2 linked regions of the Homo sapiens genome follow. The protein of the gene in region 1 purifies or fractionates together with the protein of each later gene. This does not show direct contact. Each region holds a gene or a part of one and is shown on either strand. Other genes may lie near its edges. The genes, in order: BMPR2 and BMP7.

What was found.
Region 2: the proteins of BMPR2 (region 1) and BMP7 purify together in Homo sapiens (affinity purification with western blotting; 2 studies listed by BioGRID). This does not show direct contact.

The regions. Positions count from the first base shown.
Region 1 is NC_000002.12:202,379,248-202,386,538, reverse strand, and holds part of BMPR2 (bone morphogenetic protein receptor type-2 precursor), read right to left. Parts: intron 1-7,291. UniProt on the Homo sapiens protein: On ligand binding, forms a receptor complex consisting of two type II and two type I transmembrane serine/threonine kinases.
Region 2 is NC_000020.11:57,168,135-57,172,814, reverse strand, and holds the end of BMP7 (bone morphogenetic protein 7 preproprotein), read left to right. Parts: intron 1-1,706; coding exon 1,707-1,856; 3' UTR 1,857-4,062; downstream 4,063-4,680. UniProt on the Homo sapiens protein: Growth factor of the TGF-beta superfamily that plays important role in various biological processes, including embryogenesis, hematopoiesis, neurogenesis and skeletal morphogenesis.

The sequences.
Region 1 (7,291 bases):
GTAAGAAGCAATAAGATTCTAGATATATTTTGAAGGTAAAGCCAAGAGTTTTTGCTATCAGATTGGATAAGAATGTGAAAAAAAGAAAGAGAAGAGACAAAGATATCTCTAATTTGGGGCCTGAACAACTGGAAGGATAGAACTGACATTTGCTGAATAGGCTAAGACATAGGAGGAACAGGTCTGGTGAAGCAGCTTCAGAAGTTCAGTTTTGGACAGGTTAAGTTTGTGATGAATATCAGACATCCAAGTAGATACGACAGATACACAGTTGGCTACATGCAACAGAATTTCAAGGAAAGAAGTCTGAGATAGAAATAAATTTGAAACTTGTACGCCTTTAGATGCTATTTAAAGCCATAAAACTGGATGAGATCACCAAGAGGGTGGGTGCAGACAGAGAAAAGGTCTAAAGACTGAATCCTGAAACACAACATTTAGCCATCAGGGACATAAGGAGGAACTATCAAAGTTGCTGGTGAGGTAGGAGAAAAATCAAGAGAGAATAGTATCTTAAAAGCCAAATGAAGAAAGTACTTGAAGGATGAAAAAAAAGGATTAAATTGGCTCATGCTACAGATAGGTCAAAACAAGAACTTGGAAATAAATCAAACAACAAGCAGGACATACGCACAGAAGTATTAAATATGGCATTGTTTATTAGAGAAGAAAATCGGAAACAACCTAAACATCTCCCAATATGAATTAAGTAAATAACAAATACACTCAATGGAATATCACACAATTATGAAAAAATGATAGTTATTAAGATCACATATACATGACTATATTATTCTATGTAAAAAAAACAGATATAATTAATAGATATTATAAAATCACAACCATATAAAAATACATGCTTTTTTTTTTTTTTTTGCCAGGCGTGGTGGCTCACGCCTGTAATCCCAGCACTTTGGGAGGCTGAGGCGGGCAGATCACGAGGTCAGGAGTTCGAGACCAGCCTGGCCAACACAGTGAAACTCCGTGTCTACTAAAAATACAAAAACTAGCCGGACATGGTGGCGCACACCTGTAGTCCCAGCTACTCGGGCGGCTGAGGCAGGAGAATCGCTTGAACCCAGGAGGTGGAGGTTGTCGTGAGCCGAGATCACGCCACTGTACTCCCACCTGGGCAACAAAGCGAGACTCCGTCTCAAAAAAAAAAAAAAAAAAAAAAGCATCTTTTTTTTAATTAGAAGAAAACATACCAAAACAAAAAGTGTTAGGGTTGTGTGAAGATTAATATTTTTTCTCTTAATTTTTCAAATGAAAACAAAAAAAAAAGCTTGCCCTAAAAGGTTAGCCTGGTGTGTCTACTACAATTACATAGATTTGCTCACAGACTATTCTTATTTACAAAAGCAAAGACTGAACACAGATTAATAATAATAGAAAGTCTTAACTATTTCCTCATCTAAATGAAACAAAAAACTGAAGAATTTGGATTACTGGCCAAATATTTATACATCCCTTCACACTTATCATTAACACATTTTGTTCTAAATTTTCCTATTTTGCACTAAACTTACTGGGGCAGAATGAAAGTACATGATCATGTACATTTTTGACACCAATTATAAGGGCAAACTACTGTCTTGAAGGAGAAAGGGGAAGTGAGATCTGGTTTTAAGAAACTGAAATTTCTTGGCCAGGTGCGGTGGCTCACGTCTGTAATCCCAGCACTCTGGGAGGCTGAGGCAGGCAGATTACCTGAGGTCGGGAGTTCGAGACCAGCCTGACCAGCATGGAGAAACCCCGTCTCTACTACAAATACAAAATTAGCTGGGTGTGGTAGTGCATGCCTGTAATCCCAGCTACTCAGGAGGCTGAGGCACAAGAATCACTTGTACCCGGGAGGTGAAGGTTGCAGTGAGCAGAGATCTTGCCATTGAACTCCAGCCTGGGCAACAAGAGCAAAACTCCGTCGAAAGAAAGAAAGAAAGAAAGAAAAGAAAGAAAAGAAAGAAAAAGAAAGAAAGAAAGAAAGAAAGAAAGAAAGAAAGAAAGAGAAAGAAAGAAAGAAAGAAACTGAAATTTCTCAACCTCCATTTGCATCTAACCTTCCAGAAAGAGATGTGGATCAAATACCTAACTGTCCCAAATACCTAACTCCATCTAAAATTCTTAGGCCAATGCCTCTGGCACAATACTTTATCATGTCTCATAATTTTTCCACCAAGTCCACCGTCGACACATTTAAGACGTGAATGATTGCACACATTTTGCACTATATCTTGATAATTTGGGTAATGTATTTTAAACGTTACTGATGCACAAGGCAGGGTTAAGGTACAGTGTTGGGCATTGTGATTCTAGGCATGCATATAATCTTTCATATCAGTGTTTTTTTGTTTTGTTTTGTTTTTTGAGATGGAGTTTCACTCTTTTGCCAAGGCTGGAGTAAAGTGGCACAATCTTGGCTCACTGCAACCTCTGCCTACTGGGTTCAAGTGATTCTCCTGCCTCAGCCTCCCAAGTAGCTGGGATTATAGGCGCCCGCCACCACGCCCGGGTAATTTTTGTATTTTTAGTAGAGATGGGGTTTCACCATGTTGGCCAGGCTGGTCTCAAACTCCTAACGTCAGTTGATCCACCAGCCTCGGCCTCCCAAAGTGCTAGGATTACAGGTATGAGCCACCAGGCCCAGCCAATATTAGTGCTTTTGAAAATAGTAATTTTTTTTTTTTTGAGATGGAGTCTCGCCCTGTCACCCAGGCTGGAGTGCAGTGGTACGATCTCGGCTCACTGCAACCTCCGCCTCCCAGGTTCAAGTGATTCTCCTACCTCAGCTTCCTGAGTAGCTAGGATTACAGGCATGCACCACCACGCGTGGCTAATTTTGTTTTTTTCTTTTTTTTTTTTTTTTGACAGAGTTTCGCTCTTGTTGCCCAGGCTGGAGTGCAAAGGCACAACCTCGGCTCACCACAACCTCCGCTTCCCAGGTTCAAGCGATGCCTCAGCCTCCCGAGTAGCTGGGATTACAGGCATGTGCCACCACACCCGGCTAATTTTGTATTTTTAGTAGAGACAGGGTTTCACCACGTTGGCCGGGTTGGTCTCGAACTCCTGACTTCAGGTGATCAGCCCACCTTGGCCTCCCAAAGTGCTGGGATTACAAGCGTGAGCCATGGCAACTGGCCTAATTTTGTATTTTAGTAGAGACGGGGTTTCACCACGTTAGTCAGGCTGGTCTCAAACTCCTGACCTCAGGTTATCAGCCCGCCTTGGCTTCCCAAAGTGCTGGGATTATAGGTGTGAGCCACAGCTCCCAGCCAAATTTTTGTATTTTTTGTACAGCAGGGCTGGTCTCGAAATCCTGACCTCAAGTGATCCGCCTGCCTTGGCCTCCCCAAGTGCCAGGATTACAGAGTAAGCCACTTCGCCCAGGCCACACTGCAAATTTTTAAAAGGAAAAGATTTTGGGTAATTGCTTAATGCACAAATTAAGAAATGTTTGTTCCTAATGTTTACCAGATTAAGCAATAAAAGATATAGATTAAGTAGTAATTACCACAAAAAGTAGAAATAAAGTTATAGAACTTGAGAGTTAGAAAGAATCTTAGATCCAGTAGTTCTCAAAGGTACCTAAAATTTACTGGCTGATGAGGGCATCAAAGGCAGATTCCCAGGCTCGTTGTCCAGAGATTTGGATTCAGTAGGTCTAGTGGGGTACCCATGAATCTGTATTTCAAAATGATCAAGTACAACCCCATATTATTACAAGTAAGAAAACTATGTTAAGTAACCTATTTGCCCGGAATCATATAGAATCTAGGTCTCATTAACTCCCAACAGTGGTCTTCCCACTATACCTCTTAAACTACATACTTTATAGTTGAAGGAACTAGGACAAAGAAAAAGTTATTGGTGTGTTATTTGAGTCAATAAACAACCCTAGAATATTCCTGGTTGAAATTCCTATTTATTATTCATTCACTAAGTATTTCTTAAATGTCTACTAAATTATAAAACTAATCAGACATGAATACTGTCCTCTGGAAGCAATTATCAGTAGGAAGGACAAGGCAAATACATAAAACTGATACCTGGTCAGGTGCGGTAGCTCACACCTGTAATCCCAACACTTTGGGAGGCCAAGGTGGGTGGATCAGCTGAGGTAAGGAGTTTGAGACCAGCCTGGCCAACATGGTGAAACCCCATCTCTACTAAAAATAAAAAAATTTCGGGTGTGGTGGCTCACACCTGTAATCCCAGCACTTTGGGAGGCCAGGGCAGGTGGATCACAAGATCAGGAGTTCGAGACCGGCCTGGCTAGCATAGTGAAACCCCATCTCTACTAAAAATACAAAAATTAACCAGGCATGATGGTGCACACCTATAATCCCAGCTACTCGGGAGGCTGAGGCAGGAGAATGGCTTGAACCTGGGAGGTGGAGGTTGTAATGAGTCGAGATCGTGCCACTCCACTCCAGGCTGTGTGACAGAGCAAGACTCCATCTCAAAAAAAAAAAAAAAAAAACAAAAACAAAAACTGATATCCAGCAGCACAGCAATCTATGAGTAGGTGCCAAAATAAGTGGTGTGGCCAATTATAAAATTAACTGATTCACACAGATTCCACTCAGTATTTTTTTAATGGTTAGAATTTACCCATTAGAGATCAATATTCAATTTCTTCTCTTTTTGTTAAAAAAAAAACTGGCCTTTAATGAAGGAAAGGTTTTGTCTTGTGTGAACAGTTATCTCTCACCTCACTACTCATCCACATCAATACCACTACTATCACATCATCCCACATGCCAGAATAGCTTTTGTAGAGACCAAAGTTTATATCATTTTAATGCAAAAAACTAATTAAGAGGTTGGCCCTCTTCAAAGGGTAAGAAAAGCCTCCCTTCTGGACCATCTTACTGGTTATATGTGGTCTACTGAGAATTTCAATTCTTCGTTCTTCTGCAATAGTACTATATATCCAAATATTACATTAGCCTCATCACAGGCAAAGTGTACTTTGATACCTCTTGTTTCTGAGCTTAGCCTAGCCATATGACTCGGTCAGCCAATGGGATGTTAGGAGAGCAGAGTCTGGAAATGTGCTGGTAGGGTTGGGCTTGGCCTCTTGCACTTCTGCCAATGCCATGACACAAGCCTCCCCCAGATAGATGTTACTTCTCCCTCTAGCCTGGACCCCAGAAAGAGACACATGGAGCAGAATAAATGCCTATTGTTGCATGCCACTAAGATTTTGTGGTTGCCAATAATTACACAGCAAAATGTCACTGAATCACCATATTTAAGAAATCCAGCCCAGGCGTGGTGGCTCATGCCTATAATCCCAGCACTTTCGGAGGCAGAGGCAGGCAGATCACGAGGTCAGGAGTTTGAGATCAGCCTGGCCAATATGGTAAAACCACGTCTCTACTAAAAATACAAAAATTAGCCGGGTGTGGTGGTGCACACCTGTAGTCCCAGCTACTTGGGAGGCTGAGGCAGAAGAATCACTTGAACCCGGGAGGCAGAGGTTGCAGTGAGCTGAGATGGCGCCACTGCACTCCAGTCTGGGTGACCGAGCCAGACTCTGTCTCAAAAAAAAAAAAAAAAAAAAAAAAAAAGAAAGAAAGAAATCCAGGGCCAGGGCCAGGGCCAGGGCCAGGGCCAGGGCCAGGCACAGTGGCCCACACCTATAATCCCAGCATTTTGGGAGGCCGAGGCGGGCAGATCACCTGAGATCAGGAGTTCAAGACCAGCCTGACCAACATGGAGAAACCCTGTCTCTACTAACAATACAAAATTAGCCAGGAGTGGTGGCACATGCCTGTAATCCCAGCTACCCGAGAGGCTGAGGCAGAATTGCTTGAACCCGGGAGGTGGAGGTTGCAGTGAGCCGAGATCACACCATTGCACTCCAGCCTGGGCAACAAGAGCAAAACTCAAAAAAAAAAAAAAAAAGAAAGAAATCCAAACAATCAGGACTGATGATATAAAGCAGTGCTTCTCAAGCACCTGCTTGAGTGAGACTTTGCGGGGGTTCTCCCAGAGAGATTCATTCAGTACATCTGGACTATAGGGCCAAAAATATGCATTTTTATCAAGAACCCCAGGTAATTCTGTTGCAGTACCCACACTTTGAGAAAAACTAAAATGAAGATTACTAAACTTCAGTTACTCAGTAATATTCACTAACATTAGATTAATCTTACTTTATATAATGTGTGTGTTCCTCAAGAGATGTATGTAAAATTGCAATCTAATCAAGTGAATTATTTAAAACGCATTACAGAAGTTGACCTTTAAATAATAGCTGTGTTGTATTCTTTTATTAAGAATTCATTCATAAACCAAGCCAGCACATCTTATTTTTCATAAGTTGTTTTTTTTTTTGGGGGGGGCATAGAAAATGTTCTAAGAATTAGGCGGGGTGTGGTGGCTCATGCCTGTAATCCCAGCACTTTGGGAGGCCGAGGCAGGTGGATCACGAGGTCAGGAGTTCGAAACCACCCTGCCAAAATGGTGAAACCCCGTCTCCACTAAAAATACAAAAAATAAAAATAAATTAGCTGGGCATGGTGGTGGGCTCCCGTAATCTCAGCTAGTCTGGAGGCTGAGGCAGGAGAACCACTTGCGCCTGGGAGGCGGAAGTTGTGGTGAGCCAGGGTCGTGCCACTGCACTCCAGCCTGGGCGACAGAGTGATACTCTGTCTGAACAAAAAAGAAAGAAAGAAAGAAAGAAAGAAAGAAAATGTTCTAAGAATTAAGGAGTCCAAGAACTCAATAAGTGAGAAAGAGGGAATCAAAAGAAATGATTTATCCATGACCCCGAAAAAGGATGTGCTATCAATCAGTCTTCTAGGATTTATTTTCCTGTTCAGCTGCACCATTTGCGCCTGTCGAGTTAACATCACTGCATCTGTGTAACCCAAATCCACACAGGCCCTCTCTAATCAGCTTGCACTTAATGAAGCTGCACTAGCCACTTCAATATTAGGCCAAGCAAAGTTTTACATGTTCAGAACTACGACATTTGCATAACCACTGCTGCACTAACACCTTGTAAGTGTCCCTGCTTCTTTACAAAGGTTGATCTGGTGAAGGCTAATTACTCCATCTCATATATCCAATAAGATGAGAAGTTGTTGCTGCTAGTGCTGCTGTTACCATTAATGTGGTATGTGAGGGCGCACACTATAATCCTGGCTCCATAATTTACTGACTGTGTGGTGAGTTATTCAAATTCTCTGTACTTTACTCTCCCTCTATGGAAAAGGGGAATGATAATAACCTACAACATAGAATTGTCATGAAGACGAAATGAAAAAATATATGTAAAGTT
Region 2 (4,680 bases), on another chromosome or scaffold:
CAGAAGCTGGCCAGCAGGATAATGGGATGGAGAGATGAGTGGGGACCCATGGGGCCATTTCAAGTTAAATTTCAGTGGGGTCACCAGGAAGATTCCATGTGATAATGAGATTAACGTGCCCAGCACGTGGCGACACTCAGTAGGTGTTATTCCTGCTCTGCCAACAGCAACCATAGTGATAAGAGCTGTAGGGATTTTGTTCTTTTGCTTAGAATCCAAGGTTCAAGGACCTTGGTTATGTAGCTCCCTGTCATGAACATCATCTGAGCCTTTCCTGCCTACTGATCATCCACCCTGCCTTGAATGCTTCTAGTGACAGAGAGCTCACTACCAGGACTACTCCCTCCTTTCATTTAGTAATCTGCCTCCTTCTTTTCTTGTCCCTGTCCTGTGTGTTAAGTCCTGGAGAAAAATCTCATCTATCCCTTTCATTTGATTCTGCTCTTTGAGGGCAGGGGTTTTTGTTTCTTTGTTTGTTTTTTTAAGTGTTGGTTTTCCAAAGCCCTTGCTCCCCTCCTCAATTGTAAACTTCAAAGCCCTACTTGGGATTGAAGGTCCTTAGGCTGGAAACAGAAGAGTCCTCCCCAACCTGTTCCCTGGCCTGGATGTGCTGTGCTGTGCCAGTATCCCCTGGAAGGTGCCAGGCATGTCTCCCCGGCTGCCAGGGGACACATCTCTATCCTTCTCCAACCCCTGCCTTCATGGCCCATGGAACAGGAGTGCCATCGCCCTGTGTGCACCTACTTCCATCAGTATTTCACCAGAGATCTGCAGGATCAAAGTGAATTCTCCAGGGATTGTGAAATGATGCGATTGTGGTCATGTTTAAAAGGGGGCAACTGTCTTCTAGAGAGTCCTGATGAAATGCTTCCAGAGGAAATGAGCTGATGGCTGGAATTTGCTTTAAAATCATTCAAGGTGGAGCAGGTGGGGAAGGGTATGGATGTGTAAGAGTTTGAAATTGTCCATCATAAAATGTGTAAAAAGCATGCTGGCCTATGTCAGCAGTCACAGCCTGGAGGCTGTGAACAGAGTGCCAGTCACTGATGCTCTTGCCTGGCACCTACAGTTGCTGGAAACCCAGAAGTTTCACGTTGAAAACAACAGGACAGTGGAATCTCTGGCCTGTCTTGAACACGTGGCAGATCTGCTAACACTGATCTTGGTTGGCTGCCGTCAGCTTAGGTTGAGTGGCGGCCTCTTCCCTTAGTTTGCCTTAGTCCCCACTATTCCCTATTGTCTTACCTCGGTCTATTTTGCTTATCAGTGGCACTCACGTGGCACTCATAGGCATTTGAGTCTATGTGTCCCTGTCCCACATCCTCTGTAAGGTGCAGAGAAGTCCATGAGCAAGATGGAGCACTTCTAGTGGGTCCAAGTCAGGGACACTATTCAGCAATCTACAGTGCACAGGGCAGTTCCCCAACAGAGAATTACCTGGTCCTGAATGTCGGATCTGGCCCCTTCCTTCCCCACTGTATAATGTGAAAACCTCTATGCTTTGGTTCCCTTGTCTGCAAAACAGGGATAATCCCAGAACTGAGTTGTCCATGTAAAGTGCTTAGAACAGGGAGTGCTTGGCTTGGGGAGTGTCACCTGCAGTCATTCATTATGCCCAGACAGGATGTTTCTTTATAGAAACGTGGAGGCCAGTTAGAACGACTCACCGCTTCTCACCACTGCCCATGTTTTGGTGTGTGTTTCAGGTCCACTTCATCAACCCGGAAACGGTGCCCAAGCCCTGCTGTGCGCCCACGCAGCTCAATGCCATCTCCGTCCTCTACTTCGATGACAGCTCCAACGTCATCCTGAAGAAATACAGAAACATGGTGGTCCGGGCCTGTGGCTGCCACTAGCTCCTCCGAGAATTCAGACCCTTTGGGGCCAAGTTTTTCTGGATCCTCCATTGCTCGCCTTGGCCAGGAACCAGCAGACCAACTGCCTTTTGTGAGACCTTCCCCTCCCTATCCCCAACTTTAAAGGTGTGAGAGTATTAGGAAACATGAGCAGCATATGGCTTTTGATCAGTTTTTCAGTGGCAGCATCCAATGAACAAGATCCTACAAGCTGTGCAGGCAAAACCTAGCAGGAAAAAAAAACAACGCATAAAGAAAAATGGCCGGGCCAGGTCATTGGCTGGGAAGTCTCAGCCATGCACGGACTCGTTTCCAGAGGTAATTATGAGCGCCTACCAGCCAGGCCACCCAGCCGTGGGAGGAAGGGGGCGTGGCAAGGGGTGGGCACATTGGTGTCTGTGCGAAAGGAAAATTGACCCGGAAGTTCCTGTAATAAATGTCACAATAAAACGAATGAATGAAAATGGTTAGGACGTTACAGATATATTTTCCTAAACAATTTATCCCCATTTCTCGGTTTATCCTGATGCGTAAACAGAAGCTGTGTCAAGTGGAGGGCGGGGAGGTCCCTCTCCATTCCCTACAGTTTTCATCCTGAGGCTTGCAGAGGCCCAGTGTTTACCGAGGTTTGCCCAAATCCAAGATCTAGTGGGAGGGGAAAGAGCAAATGTCTGCTCCGAGGAGGGCGGTGTGTTGATCTTTGGAGGAAAAATATGTTCTGTTGTTCAGCTGGATTTGCCGTGGCAGAAATGAAACTAGGTGTGTGAAATACCCGCAGACATTTGGGATTGGCTTTTCACCTCGCCCCAGTGGTAGTAAATCCATGTGAAATTGCAGAGGGGACAAGGACAGCAAGTAGGATGGAACTTGCAACTCAACCCTGTTGTTAAGAAGCACCAATGGGCCGGGCACAGTAGCTCCCACCTGTAATCCCAGCACTTTGGGAGGCTGAGGTGGGCGGATCATTTGAGGTCAGGAGTTCGAGACCAGCCTGGCCAACATGGTGAAACCCCATCTCTACTAAAAATACAAAAATTAGCCGGGCATGGTGGCACGCACCTGTAATCCCAGCTACTCTGGAGGCTGAGGCAGGAGAATTGCTTGAACCCCAGAGGTGGAGGTTGCAGTGAGCCAAGATCGTCCCACTGCACTCCAGCTTGGGTGACAAAACAAGACTCCATCTCAAAAGAAAAAAAAAACAGCACCAATGAAGCCTAGTTCTCCACGGGAGTGGGGTGAGCAGGAGCACTGCACATCGCCCCAGTGGACCCTCTGGTCTTTGTCTGCAGTGGCATTCCAAGGCTGGGCCCTGGCAAGGGCACCCGTGGCTGTCTCTTCATTTGCAGACCCTGATCAGAAGTCTCTGCAAACAAATTTGCTCCTTGAATTAAGGGGGAGATGGCATAATAGGAGGTCTGATGGGTGCAGGATGTGCTGGACTTACATTGCAAATAGAAGCCTTGTTGAGGGTGACATCCTAACCAAGTGTCCCGATTTGGAGGTGGCATTTCTGACGTGGCTCTTGGTGTAAGCCTGCCTTGCCTTGGCTGGTGAGTCCCATAAATAGTATGCACTCAGCCTCCGGCCACAAACACAAGGCCTAGGGGAGGGCTAGACTGTCTGCAAACGTTTTCTGCATCTGTAAAGAAAACAAGGTGATCGAAAACTGTGGCCATGTGGAACCCGGTCTTGTGGGGGACTGTTTCTCCATCTTGACTCAGACAGTTCCTGGAAACACCGGGGCTCTGTTTTTATTTTCTTTGATGTTTTTCTTCTTTAGTAGCTTGGGCTGCAGCCTCCACTCTCTAGTCACTGGGGAGGAGTATTTTTTGTTATGTTTGGTTTCATTTGCTGGCAGAGCTGGGGCTTTTTGTGTGATCCCTCTTGGTGTGAGTTTTCTGACCCAACCAGCCTCTGGTTAGCATCATTTGTACATTTAAACCTGTAAATAGTTGTTACAAAGCAAAGAGATTATTTATTTCCATCCAAAGCTCTTTTGAACACCCCCCCCCCTTTAATCCCTCGTTCAGGACGATGAGCTTGCTTTCCTTCAACCTGTTTGTTTTCTTATTTAAGACTATTTATTAATGGTTGGACCAATGTACTCACAGCTGTTGCGTCGAGCAGTCCTTAGTGAAAATTCTGTATAAATAGACAAAATGAAAAGGGTTTGACCTTGCAATAAAAGGAGACGTTTGGTTCTGGCTCTTTGGCCTGTGTCTGTCTGTGTGTGTTGTGTTTTTCTCTCAGTTCTTGGACACTGAAGTTCTCTCACACTGCTAAGAGCTCCCTGCCTTCGTCTCCACCGTGAACGCTCTGTTTAGCATCCAGGCCTTGCGGGGAAGTGGCCGCTCGTCAATATTTGGTGCAGCTGTGTGGGGCTCCGGGCAGGAGAGATGGAACCAAGCAACACATGTGAATTTGGTAGGCTCGACTACAAAGGTCCTTGATTGAATTACAGTGCAGCTGTCAGCAGCTGTTTCAAAGAGGCAGGGGGTAAATTAGCTGTGTTTACTGCTAACATAGTTGAAAGATTTAGTCATCCCAATAAAATAGAGGCACCACAGAGAGAAAAAGGGCAGGAGGTGCACGCCCAAAACTTTAAAGCGGTGCCGGCCCCAGAGCTGACACTGTCCAGTGCAAATGATTGGGGCAGTTGCTGGAGCGCGACTGTGGACGTGGATGGCCCCCAGCAGGCCTGGCGAAGGCGGCCAGGGCCCAGTGTCTCGCCGAGCATGGAGCAGCACTTGGCTGCGTAGCGTGGAGCAGCAGTTTGGACGCCTTTCCTCTTTGAAGTGCACACTCAGGTCACCTGATGGCTGTT